Regions from separate parts of the Homo sapiens genome. Here region 2 is linked to region 1. Evidence: fine-mapped expression QTL. Tissue or cell type: whole blood. Region 1 holds a variant in brackets; the other region holds the start of a gene. All regions are shown on one strand. Distances are between the middles of the regions.

Region 1 (8,108 bases):
AGAGGTTGGTTAATCCTACAGAAATACAGTAAAATATTAGGAATAATTTCTACTGTATGAGCACAATACAGTGACTGTAGTTATCAATAATTTATTTTATATATCAAAATAACTAGAAAGGAAGATTTGGAATGTTGTCAACACAAAGAAGTGATAAATGTTTGAGGTGATTATAGTGATCAATTACCCTGATTTGATCATTATATATTGTATGCATGGATCAAAATATTACATGTATACAATTATTATGTATCAATAAACAAACCAGACACATAGGCCAGTGGAACAGAATAGAGAACCTCAAATTAAGTATAAGAATTTAGAGCCAACTGATTTTCAGCAAAGGCACCAAGAACATACACTGAGAAAAGGACATCCCCTTCAATAAATGATGCCGGGAAATCTGGGTATCCATATGCAGAAGAACGAAACTAGACCCCTATCTCTCAAAAATCAAAGGAAAGTGGATTAAAGACTTAAATGAAAGACCAAAAACTGTAAAACTACTAGAACAATACATAGGGAAATCTCTTCAGGGCATTGGTCTAGTCAAAGATTTTATGAGTAGGACTTCAAAAGCACAAGCAATAAAAAACTAGACAATGGGACTATATCAAACTACAAAGCTTTTACACAACAAAGAAAACAATCAAGAGAGAAAAGGCAACCTATAGAACGGAAGAAAATATTTGCAAACTATGCATCCAATAAGGAACAAATGTCCAGTATATACAAGGAACTCAACAGCAAAAAAAAAAAAAAACTAATAATTTGATGTTTTAAATGTGCAAGGTATCTGAATAGACATTTTTCACTATAAAAGACATACAAGTGGCCAATACATGTATTTAAAAATGCTCAGCATCACTAGCCATCAGGGAAATGCAAATCAAAACCACAATGAGATGTCATCTCACTTCACTTAGAATGGCTATTATCAAAAAGATAAAAAATAACAAATGCTGCAAGGATGAGGGAAAAGGAAACTTTTACACACTGTTAGTGGGAATGTAAGTTAGTACAACCATTATGGAAAACAGTATGGAGGTTTCTAAATAAAACTAAAACTAGAACTACTATAAGGTCCAGCAATCCCACTACTGGGTATGTATCCAATGGAAAGGAAATCAGTATATCAAAGGGATACCTGTACCCTCAAGTTTATCACAGCACTATTTTCTTTCTTGCTTGCTTGCTTGCTTGCTTGCTTGCTTGCTTGCTTGCTTGCTTTCTTGCTTTTCTTGCTTTCTTGCTTGCTTTCTTGCTTTCTCCTTCTTTCCTTCCTTTATTTTTAAATTTCAATAGCTTTAGGGGTACAAGTGGTTTTTGGTTACATGGATGAACTGTATAGTAATGAAGTCAGATTTTAGTGTATCAGTCACTCAAGTAATGTACTTTGTACCCAATATATAGTTTTTTATCTATCACTCAACTGCCACCTTCCTCTCTTCTGAGTCTCCAATGTCCATTATACCACTCTTTATGCCTTTGTGTACCCATAGTTTGACTCCCACTTATAAGTGAAAATATATGGTATTTGGCTTTCCATTCCTAAGTTACTTCACTTGGAAAAATGGCCTCCAATTCCATCCAAGTTGCTGCAAAAGACATTATTTCATTCCTTTTATGGATGAGTGGTATTTCATAGTGTATATACACCACATTTTATTTATCCAGTCATGGTCCAATGGGCACTTAGGTTGGTTCTATGTTTCTGCAGTTGTGAATTGTGCTGCAATAAACATATGTGTGCACGTGTCTTTTTCATATAATGACTTATTTTCCTTTGGGTAGATACCCAGTAGTGGGATTGCTAAGTCAAATGGTAGAACTGTTTTTAGTTCTTTCAGGAATCTTCATACTGTTTTCCATAGAGTGTACTAATTTACCTTCCCACCAGCAGCGTATAAGCATTCCCCTTTCATCACATCCATGCCAACATCTGTTATATTTTGACGTTTTAATAATGGCAATTCTAGCTGGGGTAAGGTGGTATCAAGTTGTGGTTTTAATTTGCATTTCCTTCATGGTTAGTGATGTTGAGAATTTTTTCCTATGTTTGTTGGCCATTTATATATCTTCTTTAGAGAAATGTCTGTTCATGTCATTTGCCCACTTTTTGATAGGATTATTTGTTTTTTCTTGCTGATTTGTTTGAATTCCTTGTAGTTTCTGGATATTGGTCCTTTGTCAGATGCATAGTTTGCAAATATTTTCTCCCATTTTGTTCACCGTAATGATTATTTCTTTTGCTGTGTGGAGGCTTTTTAGTTTAATTAGATTAGATTTCTTTATGTTTGTTTTTGTTGCATTTGCTTTTGAGGTCTTAGTCATAAATTATTTGCTTAGGCCAATGTCCAGAAGAGTTTTTCCTGGGTTTTCTTCTAGAATTTTTATGATTTCAAGTCTTAGACTTAAGTCTGTAATCCACCTTGAGTTGACTTTTGTATATGGTCAGAGATAGGGATCCAGTTTCATTTTTCCACATGTGGTTAGCCAGTTTTCCCAGCACCATTTATTGAATAGGGTGTCCTTTCCCCAGTTCATGTTTTTGTATGCTTTCTTGAAGATAAGTTGATTGTAAGTATTTGGCTTTATTTCTGGATTCTCTATGCAGTTCCATTGCTCTATGTACCTACTTTTATAACAGTACTCTGCTGTTTTGGTTACTATATCTTTGTAGTATAACATGAAATCAGGTAATGTGATGCTTCCAGACTTGTTCTTTTTGCTTAGGATTGTTTTGGCTATTCAGGCTCTTTTTTTGGTTTCATATGAATTTTAATTTTTTTTCTAATTTCATGAAAAACAATGTTGGTATTTTGATAGGAATTGCATTGTATCTGTAGATTGCCTTGGGCAGTATGGTCATTTTAATGATATTGATTCTTCCAATTCATGAGCATGAGATGTATTTCCATTTGTTTGTGTCATCTATGATTTCCTTCAGCAGTGTTCTATACTTCTCCTCACGGAAATATTTCACATCCTTGGTTAAGTATATTCCTAGAGAGTTGGATTTTTTCCTTTTTTCTTGCAGGCATCTTAAAAGGGATCAAGTTCTTCGTTTGATTCAACTTAGTCATTGTTTGTGTGTATCAGTGCTACTCATTTGGGTACATTGATTTTGCAAGCTGAGACTTTTTGAATTCATTTACCAAATCTCGGAGTCTTTTGTAGGAATTTTTAGGGTTTTCTAGGCATGCAATAACACCACTGGCAAACACAGATAGTTTGACTTCCTCTTTTCCAATTTGGATGCCCTTTTATTTCTTTCTCTTGCCACATTGCTCTGGCTAGGACTTCCAGTACTATGTTGAATAGAAGTGGTGAAAGTGGGCATCCTTGTCTTCTTCCAGTTCTTAGGGGGAATGCTTTCAACTTTTTCCGGTTCAATATGAGATGGCTGTGGGTATGCCATATATGGCTTTTATTATTTTGAAGTATGTTCTTTCTATGCCTAGTTTGTTGAGAGTTTTATCATAAAGCAATGCTGAATTTTATCAAATGCTTTTTCTGTGTTGATTGAAATGATCGTGTAGTTTTTGTATTTGATTATGTTTATGTGATGAATCACATTTATTGACTTGAGTATGTTGAACCATCCCTACATCCCTGGGATGACATATCTTTTCGATTTTCTGTTGGATTTAGTTTGCTAATATTTTATTCAGAATTTTTACATGTATGTTAATCAGGGATATGGGTCTGTAGTTTTCTTTTTTTGTTGTTATGTCCTTTCCTGGCTTTGGTATCAGGATGATACTGGCTTCATAGAATAATTTGGGGTGATTCCCTCTTCTCAATCTTTTGGAATAGTTTCAGTAGGACTGGTACCAATTTTTCTTTGAATGGCTGGTAGAATTCAGCTGTGAATCCACTGGCTCTGAGTTTTTT[G/A]TTGTTGTTTTTGTTGTTCTTGGCAATTTTTTTATTACTGATTCTATTTCACCACTTGTTATTGGTCTGTTCAGAATTTCTGTTTCTTCCTGATTCAAGCTAGGAGGGTTGTATGTTTCCAGATATTTATCTATTTCCTCTAGACATGTACATAGAGGTGTTCATAGCAATCTCGAATGATCTTTTCTATTTCTGTGGTGTTGGTTGTAATGTCTCTATTTTCATTTCAAATTGAGCTTAGTTGAATCTTCACTCTTCTTTTCTTGGTTAGTCTAGCTAATGATCTATCGATTTTGTTTATCTTTTCAAAGAACCAACTTTTTGTTTCATTGACCTTTTGTATGGATTTTTGGCTTCAAATTTCATTTAGTTCTACTCTGATCTTTGCTATTGATTTTCTTCTTCTAGCTTTGGGTTTCATTTTTTCTTGTTTCTCTAGTTCCTTGAAGTGTAACATTTGGTTGTCAATTTGCTACTTTCAGACTTTTTGATAAAACCATTTAGTGCTATAACTTTCTTCTTAGCACTGCTTCTGCTGTATCCCACAGATTTTGATGAATTGTGTCACATTATCATTCATTTAAAATAATTTTTTAATTTCCATCTTGATTTCATTGTTAACCCCAAAATTATTTAGGAGAAGATTGTTTAATTTCCATGTATTTGTATAGTTTTGAGGGTTCCTTTTTGGAATTGATTTCTAGTTTTTATTCCAATGTGGTCTGAGAAGATACGTGATATGATTTTGATGGTTTTTAATTTATTGAGACATGTTTTGTGGCCTACTATATGGTCTATCTTAGAGGATGTTCCATGCGCTGATGAGAAGAATGTATATTCTGTAGCTCTTGGGGAAAATGTTCTGTAAATATCTGTTAGGTCCATTTGTTCTAGAGTGCAATTTAAGTCCAGTGTCTTTGGTTGACTTTCTGTCTTGATGTTCTGTCTAGTGCTATCAGTGGAGTGTTGAAGTCCCCCACTATTATTGTGTTGCTGTTATCTCTTTTCTTGGGTCTAGTAACAATTGTTTTATGAATGTGGGAGCTCCAGAATTAGGTGCATATATATTTAAGATGGTAATATCTTCTTGTTGGATTGATCCTTTTATCATTATATAATGACCTTCTTTGTCTTTTTTTTACTGTTGTTGTTTAAAAGTCTCTTTTATCTGATATAAGAATGGTTACTCCTGCTTAGTTTTGATTTTCATTTGCATGGAATATCTTTTTCCACCCCTTTGCCTTGAGTCTATAAGAATCCTTATGTGTTATATGTATCCCTGGAAAACAGAAGATATTTGGTTTGTAATTTTTTTATCCATTATGCCAATCCATATCTTTTAAGTAGAGCATTTAGACCATTTACTTTCAGTGTTAATATTGAGATGTGAAGTACTGTCCTCACCATCATATTGATTGTTACCTAGTTACTTTGTTTTCTTCATGGTGTTATTGTTTTTTGTTTTTTGTTTTTTACTTTAAGTTCTGGGATACACATCCAGAGCATGCAGATTTGTTACATAGGTATACATGTCCCATGGTGGTTTGCTGCACCCATCAATCTGTCATCTACATTAGGTATTTGTCCTAATGCTATCCCTCCCTTAGATCCCCACCCACTGACAGGCCCTGGTGTGTGATGCTCCCCTCCCTGTGTCCATGTGTTGCCATTGTTCAACTCCCACTTAAGTGTGAGAACATGTGGTATTTGGTTTTCTGTTCCTGTGTTAGTTCACTGAAAATGATGGTTTCCAGCTTCATCCATGTCCCTGCAAAGTACATGAACTCATCACTTTTTATGGCTGCATAGTATTCCATGGGGTATATGTGCCACATTTTCTTTATCCAGTCTATCTTTGATGGCATTTGGGTTGATTCCAAGTCTTTGCTATTGTGAATAGTGCTGCAATAAACATACATGTGCATGTCTTTACAGTAGAATGATTTATAATCCTTTGGGTGTATACCCAGTAATGGGATTGTTAGGTCAAATGGTATTTTTGGTTCTAGATCCTTGAGGAATCGCTGCACTGTCTTCCACAATGGTTGAACTACTTTACACTCCCACCAACAGTGTAAGAGCATTCCTATTTCTCCACATCCTCTCCAGCATCTGTTGTTTCCTGACTTTTTAATGATCACCATTCTAACTGGCATGAGATGTTATATCATTGTGGTTTTGATTTGCATTTTTCTAATGAACAGTGATGAGTTTTTTTTCATATGTTTGTTGGCCACTTAAATGTCTTCTTTTGAGAAGTGTCTGTTCATATCCTTTGCCCACTTTTTGATGGGGTTGTTTGTTTTTTTCTTGTAAATTTCTTTAAGTTCCTTGTAGATTCTGGATATTAGCCCTTTATCAGATGGATAGATAGCAAAAATTTTCTCCCATTCTGTAGGTTGCCTGTTCACTCTGATGATATTTAATAAATGATGTTGGGAAAACTGGCTAGCCATATGCAGAAAACTGAAACTGGACCACTTCCTTACACCTTATACAAAAATTAACTCAAGATGGATTAAAGACTTAAACGTAAGTCCTAAAACCATAATAACCCTAGAAGAAAACCTAGGCAATACCATTTAGGACATAGGCATGGGCAAAGACTTCATGACTAAACCACCACAAGCAATGGCAACAAAAGCCAAAATTGACAACTTGGATCTAATTAAACTAAAGAGCTTCTGCACAGCAAAAAAAACTGTCATCAGCGTGAACAGGTGTTATTGTTTTATAGACCCTGTGAGTTTTATACTTTCAAAAGGTTCTATTCTGGTGCATATCAACCTTTTGTTTCAAGATTTAGAATTCCTTTTAGCATTGCTTTTAGGGCTGGCCTTGTAGTAACAAATTCCCTTAGCATTTGCTTGTCTAAAAAATATTGTATTTCTCCTTTATTTATAAAACATAATTTTGCTGGATACAAAACTCTTGGCTGACAGTTATTCTGTTTAAGGAGGCTAAAGATAGGACCCCAGTCCCTTCTAGCTTGTAAGGTTTCTGCGGAGAAGTCTGATAGGCTTTCCTTTATAGGTTACCTGATGCCTTTTTCTCCCTGCTCTTAAAAATATTTCCTTCCCATTAAATTTAGATAGGCTGATGACTATATGCCTTTGTAATGTCCTTTTTGCAATAAATCTCCCAGAAGTTCTTTGGATTTCTTGTATTTGGATGACTAAATCTCTAGCAAGGCCATGGAAGTTTTCTTCAATTATTTCTTCGAATAAATTTCCCAAACTTTTTGCATTTTCTTCTCCCTCAGGGACACCAGCCATTCTTAGGTTTAGCCATTTTACATAATCCCATATTTATTGTAGACTTTGTTCATTTCTTTGAATTTTTTTATTTATTTTTGCCTGATTAGGTTAATTTTAAAGCCTTGTCTTTTAAATTTTTTCTTCTACTTGGTTTAGTCTATTGTTAAAACATTCCACTGTGTTTTGTAATTCCACTGCATTTTGTAATTCTCTAAATATATTTTTCATTTCTGGAAGTTCCAACTGGTTTTTCCTTAAAATATCTACCTCTTTAGAAAATTTTTCACTCATATTATAAATTGATATTCTCATTTCTTTATATTGTTTTTCACCTTTCTCTTGTATCTCCCTGAGTAACTTAATAATCAACCTTTTCAATTCTTTATCTAGTATTTCAAAGAATTTTTTTTTTGAAATGGAGTCTCACTCTGTCACCCAGGCTAGAGTGCAGTGGTGTGATCTCAGCTGACTGCAACCCCTGCCTCCCAGGTTCAAGCAATCCTCCTTACTCAGCCTCTCGAGTAGCTAGGACTACAGGTGCAAGCCACCATACCCGGCTAATTTTTCTTTCTTTTTTTTTTTTTTTTTTTTTGGATTTTTAGTAGAAATGGAGTCTCACCATGTTGGCCAGGCTGGTGGTATTTCAAAGATTTCATCTTGGTTTGGATCCATTTCTGGAGAGTGGCTGTGATCTTTTGAAGTTGTTGTAGAATGCTGTTCTGTCACATTGCCAGAATTATTTTTCTGTTTTCTTCTCTTTTGGGTAGTCTATTTCTTCTAATTATTTTTTAATTTATTTCTGGCTCACTTTTTATTTGACTGTGTTTTTTGTTGTTGTTTGTTTCTTTTTTTCCCCTTGAGGATGTGACTTTAATGTTTATAAGTTATCATAACCTAATTTGGCTCTGAGTGCTTTCAGGGGTGAAGATTCTGTATGAGCTCCTTGGTTATAGA
Region 2 (8,108 bases), 40 kb after region 1:
CATGGGACAGACTTTGCCAGACACTTCCAGAAAGAACCAACTCTGCTGATACCTTGATTTCAGGCTTCTGGCCTCCAGAACAGTGAAAGAATCAATTTCTGTTGCCTGCTGCCAGCAGTTTGTAATACTTTGTTATAACAGCACTAAGAAATTAATACCCCAGAGTGTCTTAGTCAGGGTCCAAGAAGACAGAAACCACTCCAAATATTTGCAAACAAAAGGAGTTTATTCCAGGGAACTGATTACATGACAGGAGCCAAAGAGGGTAAAATGAATCAACCGAGAGATTAGCAATAGCAGGAAGCCACTACCACACCTAGCTGGAGGCATGGAGGGAGCAAGCAGTGTTGCCAGGACCCTGATCACCTGGCAGAATATGAAACCATATCTAGCCTGCCAGGTGAGAGCTGGAGCCAGGAGGAGAGCAGAGGAGTCATCCTGAAACAGTCCGCAAGCTAAGAAGAAAGAGTGGGAAGGAAAAAGACCCTAATTCTTCAGCACCACCCATTGGCTTGGTCCAAGAAGACAGAGCTGTCAGACAGAGAAATCTGTGTGATGTAGACTGTGTCACAGAGAAGAGCAGCAGGAAGATGAGGGCTGGATCTGAAAGCTACCTGGGCAAGGATCCAAACCAACAACTCCACTCCAACCCCATGAGACTCAAAGGAGGAGAGTTTAAGCTTTTGCTGTTTTTTAAATAAATTACTAGGATCCATAATAATACCAGTAAAAGGTGAGATCTGAAGGATGAGAGACACTATGAAGAAACAGTGTGAGACAGTAATAATGCACTGATGATCATGGCAGTACAAAAAATGGGAAGTCCTTCATGAGTCAGGTTTCTTTAAACCCACATGCAACTCCCACTTAGATGGACACAACAGTATGTGAAGACTCATACTGTGTTCTTTTGTTCCAAGAACCACCACGGGAACACACCAGGAAAACCAAAGGAATTCACACACCCTTTGAAAGAAGCAGGACACTGCTGCAAATTTTGCAAAACAGGTGAAAAACTGTAAGTTCCCAAAGTGTGAGAGGGAAAAAACCTGCCTCTGAACACACATCCCCACTGGGGAATCTGAAAATCCAGATCAAGGGAGAATTTAACCTTACCTTGAACTGAAACAAATGTAGGCAGTCACACAAAATATAAAAGTAGAAGTATCAGTATCAGAAGACTGCAAGGCACTTCCAATCTTCAGCTTGAGCCCAGGGAAGCCATTCCTGACTATATCTCACAGGATCTCTCAGGGAAGGCAGCCAGTGGAATTGGGGAGGGGTCACCAGGTGAAGGAAGCTTCCAACTGAAATTGGTAGTGGTTTCAATTGGACACAAACTTTCTTTAGTGGAGTCTAGGGGACGAGTGGGAGCTTTGGCAATATGAGCACATGAACTCAGAAGCAAAGAAGCCACTCCCGTTGGAGTGGGCAGATGGGGAGGGGTGATATCTGAAATCCATGCTTGCTTTCTCAGTGGGAAAGTTCACAGCCTTGGGCAAGATCTGAGTGGGGCACTTTGGGAGTGAGACTGGCCTTGCCAACTGTGTGGGAGCTGGGTGAGACCTCTCGCTACCAGCTTTCCGCCACTTCCCTGGTGAATTATATGACACAACAGAGGTAGCCAAGATCCCCTCTGGAAAATAACCCCATTGGCCTAAGAACCACCCCCACATCCCGCACAGTGGCCACAGCAAACCCCACCCAAGGAGACTCTGAGCCCAGACCCACCTAACCCTGCCCCAACATGATGGTATTTCTTTACTCACCCTGGTAACCAAACACAAAAGATAGAAACTCTTGGGAGCTTTCAGGCCCCACCCATCATCTGAGAAACCAAAATACTCACCCTGGCCAACTTAGGGCAAACCTAGATCCCTCTACTACCAATGCAGCTGGTGCTCTCTTGAAAGCACCACTTCTTGGCTGGAGGCCAAACAACACAGGCCATTACAGCAACTCATGACAGAATAACCCTGAACCCAGGAAGGAGAAGATAACACCTAATTCCAATGCCTGCAACATCCTGGCTAAACAGAGGTCCTGAGTGTGTCCACATGAAAACTTCACTGCTAGCATAACCAGCATTCAAGAAACCCAGCACACTACACATATCTACAACCAAGGACTCTCACAGAGTCTACTTCACTCCCCTTCCACCTCCACCAGAGCAGGTAATGGTATCCATGGCTGGGAGACCTGAAGAGAGATCACATCACAGGACTCTTTGCAGACATTCCCCAGCACCAGCTGGAACCTGGTAGCGCCACTGGGAGGCTAGACCCAGAAAAGCAGTAACAGCCAATGCAGTCCAGTGGTCAGAAAGTCCCATCCCTAGGGGAAGGGGGAGAGCACCACATCAAAGGATCACCCCATGGGATAATAGAATCTGAACAGCAGGACTTGAGTTCCAGACCTTTCCACTGAAATAGTCTACCCAAATGATAAGGAACTAGAAAGGTAATTCTGGTAATATGATAAAACAGAGTTCTATATCACCTCCAAAAGATCACACTAGCTCCCCAGCAATGGATCCAAACCAAGAAGAAATCTCTGAATTGCCAGATAAACAATCCAGAAGATCATTAAGCTACTCAAGGAGATACCAGAGAAAGGTGAAAAAACAACTTTAAAAATTAAAAAATATATATATACATAAATATAGGATATGGGTGAAAAATTCCCCAGAGAAATAGATATCATAAAGAAAAAATAATCACAACTTCTGGAAATGAAAGCCATGCTTAGAGAAATACAAAATCCACTGGAAAGTTTCAACACTAGACTAGAACAAGCGGAAGAAAAAACTTCAGAGCGCAAAGACAATGCTTTCAAATTAACCCAATCAAACAAAGACTAAGAAAAAATAATTTTTAAAAAATGAACAAAGCCTCCAAGAAATGTGGGATTATGTTAAACAGTCAAACCTAAGAATAATTGGTGTTCCTGAGGAAGAAGAGAAATCTAAAAGCTTGAAAACCTTATTTGAGGAAATAATTGAAGAAAACTCCCCTGTCCTTGCTAGATACCTAGACATCCAAATACAAGAAGCTCAAAGAACACCTGGAAAATTCATCACAAAAAAGTCTATCACCTAAAGTCCTATCCCAGTTCTGTTAAAGTAATAGCAGGAATAGCACCTTATAAATACCTAGAAAAATAGTAGAAGGAAACATGCTTAAGCATTAATAATGATCTCCGGTGGTAGAATTTTTGGTAAGTTTAATTTTATCATTTACATGTTCCTACTTAACTATACATATATATTTATATATATTCATATACATAAATATACAAACATATGTATATATACACATTTTTGTTTATGGACAGCCTATGACTGTGAGCCAAGGGACATCAGAGACATGGCTCTCTGGAAACTGAGAGAATACTTAGTGGACAGTTTTTTGTTTGTTTGTTTGTTTGTTTTTGAGATGGAGTCTCGCTCTGTCACCCAGGCTGGAGTGCAGTGGCGCGATCTCAGCTCACTGCAAGCTCCACCTGGGTTGACGCCATTCTCCTGCCTCCGCCTCCCAAGTAGCTGGAACTACAGGAGCCCGCCACCACGCCCGGCTAATTTTTTGTATTTTTAGTAGAGATGGGGTTTCACCATGTTAACCAGGATGGTCTCGATCTCCTGACCTCGTGATCCACCCGTCTTGGCCTCCCAAAGTGCTAGGATTACAGGCATGAGCCACCGCGCCCGGCCTTAGTGAACAATTATTATCAGGATGATCAGCATCCATTTTTCCATCACCTGGCAACAACAACTAGCATTTCTCAAGGGAAATCCCCTCCTCATTCATAAGCACCATAGATGGAGTGGAACAGTCCCCACCTCAGCTTAAGGAGGGCTAAATAACCAAAGCATAAAGCAATCAGTCCACTACACTTCAGTGGACCCAATGATGACTCATTTTGGTTCAATAAATATCAAGTCCAGAACTTTTGTGCAGAACTGTGGAATAAAAAAAGTTATCTTTGTCACAGAATATTTATATTTAAAGAGGGGATTCTAAATATCCCAAAAATATGAATCTGAGATAGTGGTAAGATAGGAATGGGTTGCCATTTGCAGTATTTGTTGGGTGTGTGCAACTCTGCATACTGCTAAGGCAAGTCCAGCCTCCGTCTCACACCAACAGGCAGATTTCCCCACCACGGCCCTTACCATCTTGTGCTCTAACCCCAGATTTTCAGTCTACTCTTGCTAACCATCAATTCTTCAAGGGCAAGAGCCATGTCTCTCATATCCCTGGATCTGGCTTGCTAAATAATTATTCATGATTTTATCTGAGTAGAAAAAGAGCCAAGAACTGAGAAAAGGAGACATTCTTGGTTCTCAGTCACTGAGGAGCTTCTGCAGTACCAGCCTTTCTGCTAGCTGCAGCCACAGCTTCAACAGCTCCACCTCCTTGTTCTTTATTCTTGCTTTCACCTTGTTACTCAGCAGCAGGGGTGTAAATGTGACAGTGCCATGTCAACTTAAACCAAACCAGATAATTTTAATAAACCACCTTCTATAATGACACCCATCAAAACCAGAAGGGGACAAGTCTAGGAGGTCTCTGAGTTTACTGTACCCATCCCTCCTTCATCTCCCTCCAGCATTTGTTTCTGGAAGGAGTCAACACCAACAGCTCTGACCTGGGCAGCCTTCCTGAGAAAATGCAGCCATTCCTCCTCCTGTTGGCCTTTCTTCTGACCCCTGGGGCTGGGACAGGTAAGTGACTATCCCTATTCCAGAGGCCTGAACCCATCTTATAAGATACCCTGTACCCATGAGCACTGGTCAGGAATTTTCCTCAATCTGAGCCCACCTCCCATTCCACACCCAGACTTATAAATCTGAGGCTAGATAGACACTCAGCAAAGATCGAAAAATGAAGGGTGTTCCCTAAAAGGTTTAATGGGTGTTAGCCTCTCCCTAGACCTCTCCTTTATGACCTGGAGTGTGGATTGTTCTTAGAAAGGCATTTGGTAGGGAATGTGAAGCTAAAAAAGATAAGTAATTATTACTCTACACTCCAACCCAGGAAAGAGGAGCTCAGACACCAAGTTGCAGTCATAGGAGTTGTTACTGGACTCAGCTTAAGAACCACTTATTCAGTGCCCCCACCCAGTCACCCCTGCCAGGAGGGAAGCCCATGGTGCAACTGATCTCAGAGATGGCAAGATGACTGTGTCCATAGCTCTCCCATTACCTTGGCTCCACCTGGGCTTTGCGATTCATTTTTAGTTGATTTCTCCACTTCCTTCTGCCTTTGCAGGCCCTCAGCTACTCCACTGACCTGGTGATAACCCCCTCTAACATCCCTGAGGTCCTGAATCCCACCAGCACTACCCCCACTAAACCTCAGCCAAAGGCTAATTGGAGGCTATTCATTTATGCACCAAACAACACTTACTGAGAACCTAGAATGTGTTCAGCCCTGGCACATGAGAATTTTAGAAAATCCAACTCCAGAAGCTCATGGGTAGATCATTAGAAAATGGCACCAATCAGGAGGACAGCAGAGGCTCAGAGGAATCAGAGAGACTCACTAAAAAGGAGGAGCCTGGGAAGTCCTGTCCAGGATCCTCTGGGGCTCTACCACTGTGAAAATAGATCTTTCTTCCTCCATGTGTGTTTCTGCAGTAGGATGCAGAAGTCAAGCACTGTCCATTCTTTCTGAGAGAAGGTTCTGAGACTTAAAGTTCAGAAAAGCTTGCTCTGCCTGCAAGGAGTACTGCCTGCAGAGCTCAGGAGGACCCCTCCCTCACTGTCTGCAGCACACAAAACACTTCACCCTCAATCACTGTCGTCCTAAGCCTTCTCTCCTGACTGCAGCCATCCCCAGCTACTTTATCTTCCAGTCTTTCCTTTCAGAGGAGATCATCGGGGGCCATGAGGCCAAGCCCCACTCCCGCCCCTACATGGCCTTTGTTCAGTTTCTGCAAGAGAAGAGTCGGAAGAGGTGTGGCGGCATCCTAGTGAGAAAGGACTTTGTGCTGACAGCTGCTCACTGCCAGGGAAGGTAAGGAGCAGCACCAGCTCACCTCCTGAGTTCCCCCTACAGGGACCCTTGTTTTCTCCTGGGGACTGCAGCCCAGGGGAGCTTCCAGAGTTCCTGGTAACACAAGCCCATGAAAGCTCATCGGAGCAGCCACCTGGGAATAGGACTAAGATGATGAAAGGCTGAGAAATAGGACAGGGTCAGAGGGTCAGAGGGTCAGAGGTCAGAGCAAGTGGCATGGTTTCACACACTGGCCCAATAAGGCAGTAGTAAAGGTTGAATCCATGCATTAAGGATCAAAATGCAAACTCGAGCAATTTCATGATATTTCCTGAAGGCAAGAGAGAGCCCCCAGAAGCCCTACTCTTCATGTCTTTGTGAAGTAGAGGGCACAGTCACTCAGCCCTGGAGCCCTCCTGTCCCTTCAACTTCCCCTCAGCTGCAGCCCTACCCTGCCACAGCTGTCATCTGCTCTTCACTGCTCCTGGGCTCTATCCCCTGTGACTCCACCCCCATCCTCACTCTGCTCTCTGTGCAGCTCCATAAATGTCACCTTGGGGGCCCACAATATCAAGGAACAGGAGCGGACCCAGCAGTTTATCCCTGTGAAAAGACCCATCCCCCATCCAGCCTATAATCCTAAGAACTTCTCCAACGACATCATGCTACTGCAGGTGAGGCACACTCCTGCCACTCTTGCTCTTCTTGGTCCAGTTGGTTCCACTCCCACTGGGATGCCGGCCCTTTCCTCCTTTCCATCCTGACCTCTTGGTCAGTTCCTGTGCCTTAGAGGAGAGGGAAGATTGTGCAGCCCCATCACTGTGTCGGGGCCCAGAAGGCCATTGCCTGACCTGGACTTTCTTGCTTCTTCCCCACCAGCTGGAGAGAAAGGCCAAGTGGACCACAGCTGTGCGGCCTCTCAGGCTACCTAGCAGCAAGGCCCAGGTGAAGCCAGGGCAGCTGTGCAGTGTGGCTGGCTGGGGTTATGTCTCAATGAGCACTTTAGCAACCACACTGCAGGAAGTGTTGCTGACAGTGCAGAAGGACTGCCAGTGTGAACGTCTCTTCCATGGCAATTACAGCAGAGCCACTGAGATTTGTGTGGGGGATCCAAAGAAGACACAGACCGGTTTCAAGGTTGGGTTTCCAGCCTCTACCCAGAAAGACCACAGGGAGAGAGGAACTTGAGGGAGTTCTGGGGTATGACAGTGGCCAGATCTTTATGCTCTCAGCCCAGAGCTTGGGCAGCCTGTGTCCCCCTGGAATCTAGTCTTTAGTCCACTCCTTGGGTGGACTGGGGTGGCTGGAGGGGAAGGATCTGTCATCCGACAGTCACTTATCACCAAAGTGTCCGTGAGAATTGCAGAGAAAGGCTTGGTCTGGGGAGAGCCAGAAAGCACAGCCAGGGCCATGCTGGAGACCCAGGACTGAGGGAGGTGAGTGACAAGGCCTGCCTGGCACTGATGTCACACAAAATCCATAACAGAGACCACCCATCCCAGGGAACACTAGCTCAGTCTTTCCTCTCTCTGTTCACAGGGGGACTCCGGGGGGCCCCTCGTGTGTAAGGACGTAGCCCAAGGTATTCTCTCCTATGGAAACAAAAAAGGGACACCTCCAGGAGTCTACATCAAGGTCTCACACTTCCTGCCCTGGATAAAGAGAACAATGAAGCGCCTCTAACAGCAGGCATGAGACTAACCTTCCTCTGGGCCTGACCATCTCTGGGACAGAGGCAAGAATCCCCAAGGGGTGGGCAGTCGGGGTTGCAGGACTGTAATAAATGGATCTCTGGTGTAAATATGACTGAAGTCTTATTTATTCACTGAACCATCTTCAATATGCAACAACACTGCTCCAGGCAGCCGTCTGCTGTCAGTTCTGGCTTTTGCTTCTTCCTTTCTCCCCCAGCCCTCCCTCCTCCCTAAACCCCATGCTGTACAGTTTTTTCACTAATTTCTCAATCACATGTCTTTGATACTGAACCCTCTGTTAGAGCTGGTTTGAACTCCATTATAAACAAACAATCTTCACCCCTCTCCCTTCACAAAAAAAAATAAACCTCTCTGGACGTTAGGAATTTCTTATCGTCTCTAAACCAACTACCTACTC

The links. PIP is the estimated chance that this variant, and not a neighbour inherited with it, causes the effect.
Region 2: GZMH starts here. The variant in region 1 is fine-mapped to the expression of GZMH in whole blood (INTERVAL, PIP above 0.99).

What each region holds. Positions count from the first base shown.
Region 1 is chr14:24,646,528-24,654,635 of GRCh38, reverse strand. No RefSeq gene overlaps it. Among named protein-coding and RNA genes, the nearest start is that of GZMB, 16 kb to the right of the region's middle. The variant G/A (reference allele first, on the strand shown) is at 3,898.
Region 2 is chr14:24,606,174-24,614,281 of GRCh38, reverse strand. GZMH (granzyme H) reads left to right here and starts at 4,597. Exons shown (of 5, transcript NM_033423.5): 1 at 4,597-4,723; 2 at 5,870-6,017; 3 at 6,535-6,670; 4 at 6,876-7,133; 5 at 7,536-7,802. The coding sequence starts at 4,669. The coding sequence ends at 7,679. RefSeq lists an enhancer at 8,016-8,108.